Homo sapiens: one gene and its partners. The protein of the gene in region 1 purifies or fractionates together with the protein of each later gene. This does not show direct contact. Each region holds a gene or a part of one and is shown on either strand. Other genes may lie near its edges.

Region 1 (4,498 bases):
AAAAGGAAAAGAAGAAATTGGAGAGATTGAAAAGTTGGTATTCAAGTTTGAAGACTACTGGCATCTCTCATTCATTTATTCAACATTTATGGAGTGCCTACTAAGGACTGTGAGGTGCTGTGAAGGATAAAGAGATGGGCCAGATGGAGAGCCTGCTCTCAAGAAGCCTACAGTGCAGGAGGCATAGAAATAGCAGTCACACAGAGTACAGAGTGATAAGTGCCCCCGAAGAGGCAGAGGGAAAGGGCAGTGGGAGCTAAGAGCGGCTCCAACTGGAAGCCAGGGAAGACTTCTTCGAGGAGTGGCATTTAATCTGGGCCTTGAAGGATGGGTTAGATGTGGAGAAAGGGAATTGAGAGGAAAGAGGCAGGTCCAGAAGTTAGTAAGGTTTACTCAGTCTAAGAGTTCATGCTTCTGAACCTAAACCCCAGGCCAAACCCAGGAAAGCAAACTGGCAGCACTTGCTGCTTTTGCAATGCTAAACATTTCCTTCTGGGCACTTGCCCCTGCCAGCCTCCCCAGGCAGGAAAACACGCGACAGTAGGCTTTCTGGAGCCCCAACTCTGGGCGCTTGCTGGGAAAAGGCTCTTCTCTCCCAATCCTCTCCAAAAGGCCCTACATCCCCAAAGCCAGGGCTCCCTTCCTAGGCAGGCAGAAGGGTTCCCTTCATTTGATTAATGATTTCAGTGGGCAAGCATTGAGCTTGTTTGAGTAGAAATGTTCCTTGGGATGCTGTCTGGGGGAAGAAGACTTGTAATGTTTTCCTTGCAAAGATTGGGTTTCTTCTAATACTAATATTTGCTTTAGGGCTGTTGTCAAACACAGAATGGATCAGTGGAAGAAGGTGGTGTAGTTAAGGGTGACTTAAGCGGCTGTTCTTTACGGGCTGATAGTAAATTGTGGCTGTCTGCTCTCTGAAACTCTGCCTGGATTCCTACATAACCCTGCTCTGAGAACCCTGGGTGGATTCCTTCCTTACAGGAGGCTCGGGTTTCAGGAAAGTTTTTGTTGATAGTGTTCCAGAGCCCCAGTGTGAGAGATTTTTATGTCTTTTCGATTTAGGGGTCAGTGGGAGGTAATGGGGGGGCAGAGGGCATACATTAGCATCATTATTAAAGGAAGAGTGAGGAGGCTAGTGTTTGATAAATCCCAAAGTGCAGCTGATTATTCTCTCTACAGGAAGGAGACAAGGCCCAGTCCTAGGGCTTGGTGGAGGTGAAGGTACAGGCAGCCCTGGAGGATCCTTTTTCAGACATCCCCCATTCTGAGGATTCTGGTGACACCCACCACACGTCATCATGCCGGCTCTGGAGAGCACAAAATAAACACTCCAGAGAGAACTACCCCTTACAGACATGAGATCTGGGCTGAAGACTGTCAGACGCCCTGGCTCTACCCATGTATCTCTTCTTTTTTTTTTTTTTTTTTTTTTTTGAGACGGAGTCTCACTCTGTCACTCAGGATGGAGTGCAGTGGCGCGATCTCCGCTTACTGCAACCTCCACCTCCCGGGTTCAAGCGATTCTCCTGCCTCAGCCTCCTGAGTAGCTGGGACTACAGGTGCCTGCCACCACGCCTGGCTAATTTTGGTATTTTTAGTAGAGATGGGGTTTCATCATATTGGCCAGGCTGCTCTTGAACTCCTGACCTCGTGATCTGCCCGCCTCGGCCTCCCAAAGTGCTGGGATTACAGGCGTGAGCCACCGCGCCCGGCCTACCCATGTATCTCTTATGGTCTTTATCTATAAATGGGTATTAGGGTGTTTTGAAGATTGAGTCAGAAAAAACAAGTTTAAGTACTTGGTAAACGGACACTTTACGAAGCCCATCACTATCATGGGTTACTCGGGCCCCCACTGACAGTCTGCCCTAGCTGCCTGCATCTGCATTCCCACTCTCCCCTCCCAGTACACTCCGTCATGTTCTCAGTCTCTCTGTTTGGGGGTCACCTCACATTCATCACACATGCTTCTGTTCTGACTTCACCCCATGCTCCCGCCTGGTGTCCCACCCTCTGCCATAAAGTATCTCCCGATGGGATATGCCATCTGCCTCCTGGTCAACATATCCGGCTGTTTTCACATTCCAATTCTGACAGACAGCCACATAGACAAGAGATACTTTTTACAACCCTGAAACCAAAAACAACTTTGTTTTCTTTCTTCTCAAGAAGTCGAGCGGCATCTTCCCTTCCTTCACCTCTCCTTTCTCCTGATTTGATGACCTTTAAGCACCCTATGATTTTGCGAGGAGAACCTATATCCTTCCATTAAGAAAATATTCCGATACATGAAAAATCAAAAGCCCTTTCCATTGGTAATGGAAGGAAAAACAGCTGCCCTCAAACACTTCAGCAAGGACCAGCTTCTGGCTCTCACCACCATCCAGGGCAAGAAGGGCGGTCGTGGCACTCTGCATCCTACCTGAGATAAAACGTTCTCCTGGTTGTCCGCCTCGTTTTGCAGAGTCTCGTCCTCCGCAGGCGCCACTGTCTGCGCATCTGGGGGCTCGCTTGTCCCTGTGAGGACAATGCTGGACACCCAGGCCGGAACCACAATCAGAGCGAAGTAGAGAACTAGCAGCCGAGGCTTGGCCATGAGGGGCGCGATAAGAGTGTCCTCAGCCCCTTCAGAGAATGGCTGGGGCGGGGGGTCTCGGCAAGGACTTCTGCGAGAGGGTGTCCTCGCTAGAGCCCGAAAGTGGCTGCTGAGAGCACCTTCTAAAGCTGGGTGCGGCTGAGCGGGACGGGAGGGTGCGCCCCAGAGACTCTGGGCATCTCCTTCCCGACGCGAGCAGCCCTCGACTGTGCAGCCCCAGTGGAGAGCCGGACGCAAGGAAGAGGGGATGACGGAGAAGGTGGAGGCGGGCACGGGCTAGCTGAGCGAGTCGCCCGCAGGAGGGCTCAGGTGGCTGGAAGGCGTTCGGACAGACGCCCGCGGTGCGCGCCGGGACGGGCGGCGGGGAGCCTCGGGACGCACGGGGACCGGACACGGGGAGGGAAGAGGCGGTGGCGGCGCGGGCTGCTGGGCGAGGGCTGCTGGGCTAGGGAGCCGCGGAGAGCTCGCGCGGAAGGAGGGCGGAGCCTCTATTGTGCCGGGGCGGCGGAGATGCAGCCAGTGACCGCGCGGAGGAGGAGGACCTGGAAGCGCACAGGGCTCGGGCGGAGGGGTACCCGGCGGACCCCGTCCCCGCTGGGACTCAGCTGCCGCGCGCCGGCTGAGGGTGACGTTGGAAGGGCTTTACTTTCTTCTCATCTGATCGCAAGTGAGTGAAGAGAAGTTACTCCGAGCGGCGTCCCTGAAGTTTTGGGGTTCGACCATTCTTGGCGAGAAGAGCGACTTTCCATCGCAGGCACCCAGCGCTCGCTCCAAGGCTGAGCTAGTTAGGGATCTGCGGCATCGTCCTTTAGCACACCTGGGGCAGGGGAGAAGGCGCGTTTGTTCCCAGGCGTTTCTTTTCCCTGACTTAACTCTGGGCGAGTTCTCGGGCAGCTTTGAACTTAGCGCCGTTGGTAGCTGCTTGCCTGCCACGGCTTTAGAACCTAGTAATACCTCCACCCAGAGGAAAATCATTGAATTCCTTCCTAGAGTGTGTCCTGAGTTGTGTAAACGTTGAAAGTTAGGGGAATGACTGTACATCTCCGACACTCTCCGCGAGTCCCCATGGGGAAAGCTACTGCCTGATAAATGATTACCAAAGGGAACAGCTCTTCCTGTCTTCCTGGTTTGGGACAAATCTCCGGGTCTCTGTTACCAGATTATCTCTAAGAGGGAGTCCACTTTCAATAGTGTGCAATTATGTTACTATGTCCCTCAATTACTGAGGACAACCTTTTATAAACCTACAGTGAAGATTACCAATATGTGAATTTAAGGAAGGGCACTGTGCCATCCTGGACAACTGTCACTCGGAATATTGAACAGAGCCAGGCCCCTTCAAAGGATATTATGCACCCTTGGGAAATTCAAACACCTTGCTTCTTATGCTGAGGAATAAGGGTTGTAATAAACTAAGGAAACTAGCGCATATAAGTAATAGTTGACATAAGTATAATAATAACCCTTATTAGTATATTTTAATCTTCAAAAAATTCAGTTTATGGACAAAAATTCAATGCTCTGGGTGTCTAGGTTTGTGGGGACATCATGCACACACCCTCCTCTGTGTAAGCTATCAAATCTTTTCTGAAACTATATGGGGGTAAACATTGATAAAATGTGGTGTATTTGATTGTTTGTTTGAGACAGAGTCTTGCTCTGCCACCCAGGCTGGAGTGCAGTGGCGGGATGATCTTGGCTCACTGCAACCTCCGCCTCCTGGGTTCAAGTGATTCTCGTGCCTCGACCTTCAGAGTACCTGGGATTACAGGCGCACGCCACCATGCCCGTTTAATTTTTTGTATTTTTACTAGAGTTGGGGTTTCGCCGTGTTGCCAGGCTGGTCTCGACCTCCTGGCCTCAAGCCATCCATCCGCCTTGCCCTCCCAAAGCACTGGGATT
Region 2 (4,428 bases), on another chromosome or scaffold:
AGTCTGCCTGGAGGGGCATATTTAGTCAGAAAGGAAGTGTTTTCCTTCTAAAGGCAGGCAAGAAGCAGAGAAGCATTCAGAAGGAACACGGCAGAATGTACCTCTGACTTGGTGATCACGGGGACCTGGGTGTGAAACCTGGCTGTATCACTCTGAGTTCTAGGACCTTGGTAAAGTTATTCAGTCTCCCTGTTCTTGAAGCCATCTCTTTGTCCAACAAATATAGTCCATACCTCAGAGACATGCTGTGGATGATCCCACAAAAGCCTACAGTTTAGAGAGTAGGCTCATCATATATTTTGGCTATCATTGTCATTAGAATTAATTAAAATAGCCTTTGTTAAGTCTTTTATTTCTCATTCATATTCCTGTCTATTACACTATTTGTGGACTTGCTCTTACTTCTGCTACAGATGGTGACTCAGAGGGGCAAAAATCCTTGTTGAAGGGCAGAATGGCAACCAGAATGCACACAGCCTGGTTTCATGATTTGTAAATGTGCTTTTTGTCATTGAAGATTCTGTGGCAATGTCCCAGAGGCTAAGAGCAAAGGTGTAAGTTTTAGACCTTGTGACCCCACTTCAACCAAAGCAGCCCTGCATTTACCTGTCATATACTGGGGGTTTGCCCTAAATTCATGTAATGAATATTTTCATCATTAAAAATAAGTTTAAAAATCATGATCTTAGAATATTAATCTTGGACAAGTCCTTGTAAAATGATAAACAGAGAAACTAAGAAAAGTTTCCATTTATTGAACCCTTAATATGTGGAAGGTACTATGCCAAGTGTTTGCCATATATTACCTCATTTGAATGTTGCAAGAGCCCTGTGAGACATAGTTTGTCATCTCCATTATATGAATGACAAAGTTGAGGGCTGAAACGTTAGTCACTTCTTAGAGTGGGGAAGGAGGAGGTTAGTGTGGGATAAAATAGAGAAGCTAGGTTTTTAAAACAAAGCATAGAGGAAAAAAATATTTAATGACTGTAGAGCTTGGCAACATCCCTTTCAATCCTTGTCCAATTTACCCTGTTTGAGCAAACCAGAGAATACTCATATTGTGCACCTTTTTCTTCCCCACAAAGCAGTCACCTTCCTGAAATGCAAGGGCCAAAGCACGCTGACTTACATCTCCTGCAAATGACTTGTATGCGCACAAAGCCAGAAACTCTTCACTTGGTTGTCTAGGACTGAATAAATCTTCTTCAGTCCTGAATTGGGCTTGCCTGGCTGGGATGGATAGTAGTTTTCCTTTCTAAAACACATATGGGAAAGCTCTGTAAAAATGGGGGAAAAAGTCTACAAAAACATGAAAAAGAGGCATTCATTCTTCAAGTGGTGCTCCCTGTCCTGCCCTCCCTCCGGACAGAAAGCTTTTCCAAAGAGTTTCCAACAGCATCGTACTTCATAGCTGTCAGCTTTAGAATCTGCAGATGCCTAAACTCAAAACCTCCTGACATTCTGGAATCAAAATTTGACATTAACTTCCAGCCCCGGGCTACTACCTTTTCTCCAACCTGTGCCAACACAACCTCCTGCTTGTAAAATACAGCCAAGTCTCAGACCTGCCAGCCTAGTGAGACACCCTCAGATTGGGTGAGATAAAAAGCGGGGGCTGGGGGCGGGCTGAGGAACAACACACAAGAAACAATCCAAGACTGGCTCAATGCCTCTTTTAACTTCCAGAGTGATGGCAGTTTTTGGCAATGACAATGATTATCCAAACTTCCAGTTATTAAGCAGTCATTGCTGATCTTTCTATACCTCATTTTCTCCTCAAAACGACAGCAGACGCTATTGTCCCCATTTTAGAGATGTGAAAACTGAGGATTAAGGAAGTGATGTATCTTTCTCAGGGTCATATGTATGGTGGTGGGGAGAATACCAAACACCTCTGGCTTCAAACCTAAGCTCTTATTCCTCTTACAACACTGATGGGTGAGAAGAACCCCTGTGTTCTTTCCAAAGTACACCAGGGGCAGCAGGGTTCCCATACCTGGGGGATGTTGTTGCTCAGATCTTTCTGTGATGAGAGGTGAGGAGGAGGAGGTGATTCTAGAGACATGTGGGACGCTGCTGGCTCTAGGCACCCCAGTAAAGCTGTTCTCCACCACTCTCTAGCTGCCTGTCAGTTATTCATCTGGCCCAGGAGCCACCTCCTCTCTTCTGTCCCCCAGCTCTCATTTCCAGGGTGAATATTTTGAGGACCAAATGAGGGAATGGGTACAAAACTCTTTGTAAACTTTATGTAAGTGCTGTTTAGATATAAACTTTTATATTCTCCCTGCACTCCTCTATCAAACTCCCTCTAACCCATCCCAGGGGCAGGCTATGAGCAAAGTCTGCCTTAAAACTCTACTGCCCTAACCCTCAAAATAAAAGATATATACAGGTGAATCAGCCAGACTAGAAGTAGGAGAGCAGTTGAAGAGAAAATTTTTACTTTTCCTCTGCAGAACAGCAGAAGATAACAACTTTACGAAAAGTTCCTTCCAAGTCTGACTATTCATAAAGTTAAAACAAACAAAATTACAAGACCAGAAAAGTCAAGGTGCATCTGATATAACCAATACACACTCCTTTTTTTTCCAGCGGTGGAAAAAAAAACCCCATATGTTTTGTAATTATAATATAAAATCACAACTCATTTGGTACCAGGAATGCAATCCTTACATCATAAGGATCTCTAGTGATGAGGGCAAAACAGACTTACCTTTCCGATGGGCGAGAGACCTAGGTCCTTGGAAGAAGTACCTGGAGTGTGGAGCTGCGGCGGTTCCCACGTGCGCGTTCCCCCGAGTTCCCCAGCAGCGCTGCCTTTGTGCCCACGGAGGCGGGGGCGTGTATCTGCGCGCGGGAGAGGCGGGTGACAGTAGGCAGGCTGTGGCCGGTGCAGCCAACTTTGGCTGGCTTATATAGCGAGCTCCTTCCTCTGTAATGGGACGCCTCGCCTCCAGACATCCTTTCCCACTTTTTCAGTTGGCGAATTAAAGGAACAGCCCTCCCAGCGGAACAGGGTTAGCTCATGAAAGACGCACTCACTCCTGGCTCTCGGCCAGGGAAGGAACCCATTTGCATACAATTTATGGCGAAAGTAGGAATTCCCGCCTGCCCGCCCCCGACCCCGAGTAGCTGTTAGTGAAATGTGATTTTTGCTTTGCTCCCCACACGGGTTTTCTAATTGTGAGACGGATGCCTGGGGAGCAAGAGGGAGTAGGATCCGCAGCCCTGGCTCCCCTCTTGTACTTGGTCAAGCTGGAAATGGGACCAGGGCTCGCCTGGGCTCTGGGCAGCAGCTGCTCAGTGGCACCTCGGAGCGAGTACAGGGACTGAGCCCAGTTCCTGGAAAGAGGAGATAAAGCCCTTCAAAAGCCTGGGGGGTTTCAGGTTTCTCTGGGCCAGCGGAGAGATAACCCAGGATTAGGTCTCAGCAGGTGGGGATCGTGCGGGACGCTCACATCAGCCCTGCTTTTCTTGTGTGGGAGCCAGCCTTGCCCAGCTGCTGGGAGGCATCTTTGTTCCAGCCCCAGTGTCCTGCAGGGCAGTAGCTTTTTGACATTGTTCATGCCCTGTGCCTGGTGTGGTCTTCTCAGCTGGGTCTCCAGGGGGAAGGATTTCTGAGGTTTTCTCTTAGTGCTGAAAGGCGTCCCCCACAGCCCTTTCTTTAAAGAAAAGCAATAATTTAAAAAGGTAACAACCTAATCCTTGAGCCATAAGCTGCGCCTTTGCTTTCCAGCCTGCCGTGGATTTCCTCCAAGCTCTGAGTCATCCGTTCGTTTGGTGGTTAGCATGCATTGAGTATCCTCAGGGCATACAGGGGCATTTAAGGGAGTGGAGAAGTAGCACTTCACCCGTGCCTAGAGACTTCTGAGCCTGCCGCAGAGCATAGTAGTTTGTGACAGTGAAGTAAAATGAAGCATTAAATGTAATTCAAAACGCAACTACCATTGAGCCCTCCCTTATTAAGTCTATAATCAGGTGCTGTGCAGGGTACTTTATGAACACTATTTTTGTTCACTATTTTTATTATATCCTTGTAACCAGTAAGTAGGATAGACACAAGTGTCTCTTTTTTACACAAGAAAACTGACGTTTAGAGAAGTAATGAAACTTTACCAAGGGAATACACCTGGGAAGTGTTTATATTACAACACTGGGCTCCAGAGATCTATTACACGTTACTGTTTAGGAATAGGGTATGATGATATTTAAACAATGTTTTATGCTGTATTAGATTGTTAACACCATTTGTGTAGAAATCACAGCCATATTTGAATATGGAAAATATATTTATTTGCTCCATAAAGCTAATTAGGAGAGATCTTTGATTTTTAAAAATTAACTACTAATAATGGAGGTCTCAATTATCCACTTATTTTCAATATTAAATGATATCATCCCCACAGTTATTATTGTTGCTGTGGG
Region 3 (3,748 bases), on another chromosome or scaffold:
TTTCAGAGTGAGAGAGCATCAGACTGAGATTCTGATTTAAAAAACAAGCACAGATAAAGCACAAAGGAAATCTTCTCGAAACAAAGCCTATAATGGTAAATATGTTCAGAATAGCTTTTCTCCTGTAACATCGTGACCTGCATCTAAGCATCTAATAGCCTCCACCCATGCCCTTGCAGCAAGAATCAGAATATTTGTTCCTGTTTTAAAGGCACAAATGGTCCTAAGAGCAGATTTTCAAAAATGGGAGGAACAATAGCTCCAATGGACCAATTGCAGCATGCAGATATCTTGACCTTTGCAGGTGGTGTAGAATGATGTGGTGCCTACATATCTTTTGGCATCTACTCTTTCGAGATGCTACCTCCCCACTCCTCTTGCCTTATCAGTCTTCCATCACAAGCCAGACTAACTGAAATTCTCAACAATTTCCAACCTAGAGAGGGCGATAATCTGACGGCATGTACATTGGTTCCAGACAACTAGGGCAAGACACATTCCTCCCTGAAAGCACCCCCTTGGTCAGGCTCATCATTTATTCGTCACTAGATGTAGCTTTACTGCCAAAAGACCTACTCTTGTTTATTCCCCTCCCTCTCTACTATTTATAGTTGGTCTAACTTTTTACAAGCTTTGAATAAAACAGAGAATGTGACCTAAGATGTGTTATTAAATGTCCATACACATAAGATGGGGGAACAGAGAGTCACAGATGGTGACAACATGGGTAAAAATTCCTATCTACTTGGAATAAGGGCAGAATCAAATTTTACTCTAGTTTCATTGAGATGACACTGAAATGTCAGTAGCAACAGGCACATTCAAGTGTACCCTTCTTCCAAGCAGATCAGGCCAAGCAATTCTGGCCATTGGGACGTCCATTATACTGCTCACCTGGAAAAGGCAGCGCCCAGCACAAACGCAGCATACTCCTTCACGAGGGGCTCTGTGCTGTTCAGCCCATTGATCACCACTTGAAGACCACCAAAGGAAAGCAGGTCCTGCGCATTGTCCATCTGCAACAGAGCCACTGCTTAGTACAGCATAGCCATCAGGGACAGGAAAGCTGTTCTTAGAGCCTTTCTTTTGGTGACTACCCAAAAACAAATTAAAAAGCCATGGAAAAATCAATAATGGCCTTTTTGACTAAGAAAAGGTTTGTAAAAACCAATTTTTTAATACTCTTAAATTTGAGAACTCCTAATTCATCTAACACGATTGATGAGCACCTGCGTGGGAATCAGCAGAAATGACACCTAGCTATTGCTTATGCCAAACATGTCCTGGAAAATTCTAATATCATAATGAGTCACAAAGCTTGCTCCTAATGTACAAGCTGTTAACACAAAGAATCTGGCGTCATCAGCACCACTAAATGGTGCCATGCTTCCTGCTGATGTCCAATCCCAATGGGGACAGTGGAGGCAGATTTTTAAAGCTGATTTTAAATTAGAAGCTAGGGACTATAAAAGGAGCCCTGTTATTGGGAGGGGGGTTGCCGTAAGAGTGCTGGGGAGGGGGGAATAACAATAGTACCTTTCTCTTGCATCTCAGGTTGACTGCATCTGAAGACATTCATGATAAAATATGCAAGAAAATCGCTCTCCCAAAGGTTTCTGTCTAAGCCTGTGCTACTGGCTAGTGGCTATGTATCAGACAGTGCAGAACATTTCTATCATTACATAAAGTTCTATTCAACAGCATTGGTCTAGGCTATCATTTAAGCTCCAAATCCCCAAGTCCGGATTCTCTCTTTTACTCTATAGCGGATCTCATTACCCACAGTTTATTAGTACCCTGGAACAAGACAACTCGCTTTCCTCAGAAAGGTCACTGGATCCTGTTTTCTACATGTACCCGCTACAGTCTCCCTCGAATATATCTTTGTTGCCACAAAGGCTGCATCTTGCCCATATGCTAATCCCACGCTATCAATCATGAGGAAAACTCAGGAAGCTGAAGCCCAACAACTGTGGCTGCTACCCATCTTTCTCCTCCAGATTCCACAGGGCCCCTTCCCAACTGCATCCTTGCCTCTCTGAACTAGGAGAGGACTCTGACAGAGAAATCAAGTGTGAGGATTGGTATTTGACTGTGCTAGTGTTTTGTGGTGGCCTAGCCTGTTGTTGCCACTTGAAAAATCATATTCATACACATTTGGATGGAATCTCCATGACAGCAGGGGTTTTGTCTGTCTGTCCACGCTTGTAGCTCCAGGGACTAGGATGGTGCTGAGCATATGGTTAGGTGTTCAATGAATAACTGTTGCATTAATGAGTATGAATTTGATCAGAAAAGAATGTTCCTGAAATAAAGCTCCAGTGTGAATAAAAAGGCAATCTGGGGTATCTGTGCCAACAAAATGAATGGGCCTCTGGTACCGCAGACATGAAGTAATGGCTAAACCAGGTTGTGAAGTAAGCATGAAGTCTGCTCTGCCATGTGGCCCCAGGCCATGGACATTTTTCTGCCCCAAACTGTTCTTATGAAGAGGAATAACTGGTTGAGCCACAGCCCAGCTAACTAGGGAGACTCAGGGTTGGGTGCTTTGCTGACATAAGCACCTTCCTTCCTTCCCTACATGCTCTAATTTTACAATGTAAGAATTCACTACCTATTCTTTGGTTGTCCTTCCTCTGGGTTTTCTGGATACAAAACTATGGCTCAGAATCCTGTCATACCACGCCTGGAATGGCCACTTATAAAGCTGGTATGAGTTCCTAGCAGAGCAGCTGCCACTCGGTCAGCTCCAAAGCAACACAGCCCAGAATCATGGACCTTCTGTTCTAGAGTCAGTTTATCTACTATTACTACAATGATAATTCAGCATGATAGAAATGCAGACATTTATATAAGCACTTCAGCCTTTTTGGGATGTTTTCTCATGGTTTACTTCACTAACAGTGAGGAAGAAACGATTCATTCTGCCCAGTGCACATCAAAAGCTGGGCCCCCCCCTGGTGACATACAGGAGAAACCATGACCATAGCCCAGGTCCACAGCTCCCCATCTCGGTCTGGGGCCAAAACTGTTCTCAGGCTGCCTTCGGGGTGGGGTGGGACAGGCAGAGAGGAAGAGGAGGAGGGAGTGCAGGAGGGAACTATGCCAACACCCTGGAGGAAAGGAAAGAAGCAGGGCACTGATAAGACAATGAGAGAATGGGAAACAGCGAAGGGGAAAAATGGTGGCACACAGCTGAGGAGACACGTGGGAGAAGGCAAATGTACTGCCCGAGGTAGATGGGGCGGACGGAGGCCGCTCCTCATAAATAACTCACCATCTGTTTCCACACACAAGGTTTTGCTTTTCACATATCCTGTTTAATAATTCAAATATGGCTGTGAGGAAGCCTGGCAGACCTGGTTTGGGTCCTTGGAGCCTACAGCTCCTCAAACCACCATTCAGTGAGTCTGGAATGAGAAAGGACTGGGGAAGTTCCTGGCTAGGAAAGTGCCATCTTCCTTAAAACTAGTACTACATCACCCCAAGCCCCCATCACAACTGGGACTCGGGCCGAGTTGTGTCTTACTTAATCCCCCAGTGAAATCACAGCTTAACATTGCTGCATGGCAGCCTGATGCACCAGCCCTTCCAGTCAAAACACCAATGATCCAGAACATTTCTCTGCCAACAGACAAATTTGGCTTCTGCCAGGGACTGATTTTGGGATGACCTCAGGATGGGTCTGGTGAGGTGGCCTGTGAAAGCAGAATGGGGATGTCACCTTAGGGAAGACACTGCCAAGTGA

Evidence for each region. Proteins that work in one complex are often made in the same cells at the same time.
Region 2: the proteins of OLFML2B (region 1) and TNC purify together in Homo sapiens (co-immunoprecipitation; one large-scale study listed by IntAct). This does not show direct contact.
Region 3: the proteins of OLFML2B (region 1) and SIL1 purify together in Homo sapiens (co-immunoprecipitation; one large-scale study listed by IntAct). This does not show direct contact.

The regions. Positions count from the first base shown.
Region 1 is NC_000001.11:162,020,835-162,025,332, forward strand, and holds the start of OLFML2B (olfactomedin-like protein 2B isoform 2 precursor), read right to left. Parts: upstream 3,036-4,498; 5' UTR 2,597-3,035; coding exon 2,423-2,596; intron 1-2,422.
Region 2 is NC_000009.12:115,115,266-115,119,693, forward strand, and holds the start of TNC (tenascin isoform 1 precursor), read right to left. Parts: upstream 2,893-4,428; 5' UTR 2,717-2,892; intron 1,259-2,716; exon of another isoform or gene 1-1,258. UniProt on the Homo sapiens protein: Extracellular matrix protein implicated in guidance of migrating neurons as well as axons during development, synaptic plasticity as well as neuronal regeneration. Promotes neurite outgrowth from cortical neurons grown on a monolayer of astrocytes.
Region 3 is NC_000005.10:139,020,277-139,024,024, forward strand, and holds part of SIL1 (nucleotide exchange factor SIL1 precursor), read right to left. Parts: intron 1,017-3,748; coding exon 895-1,016; intron 1-894.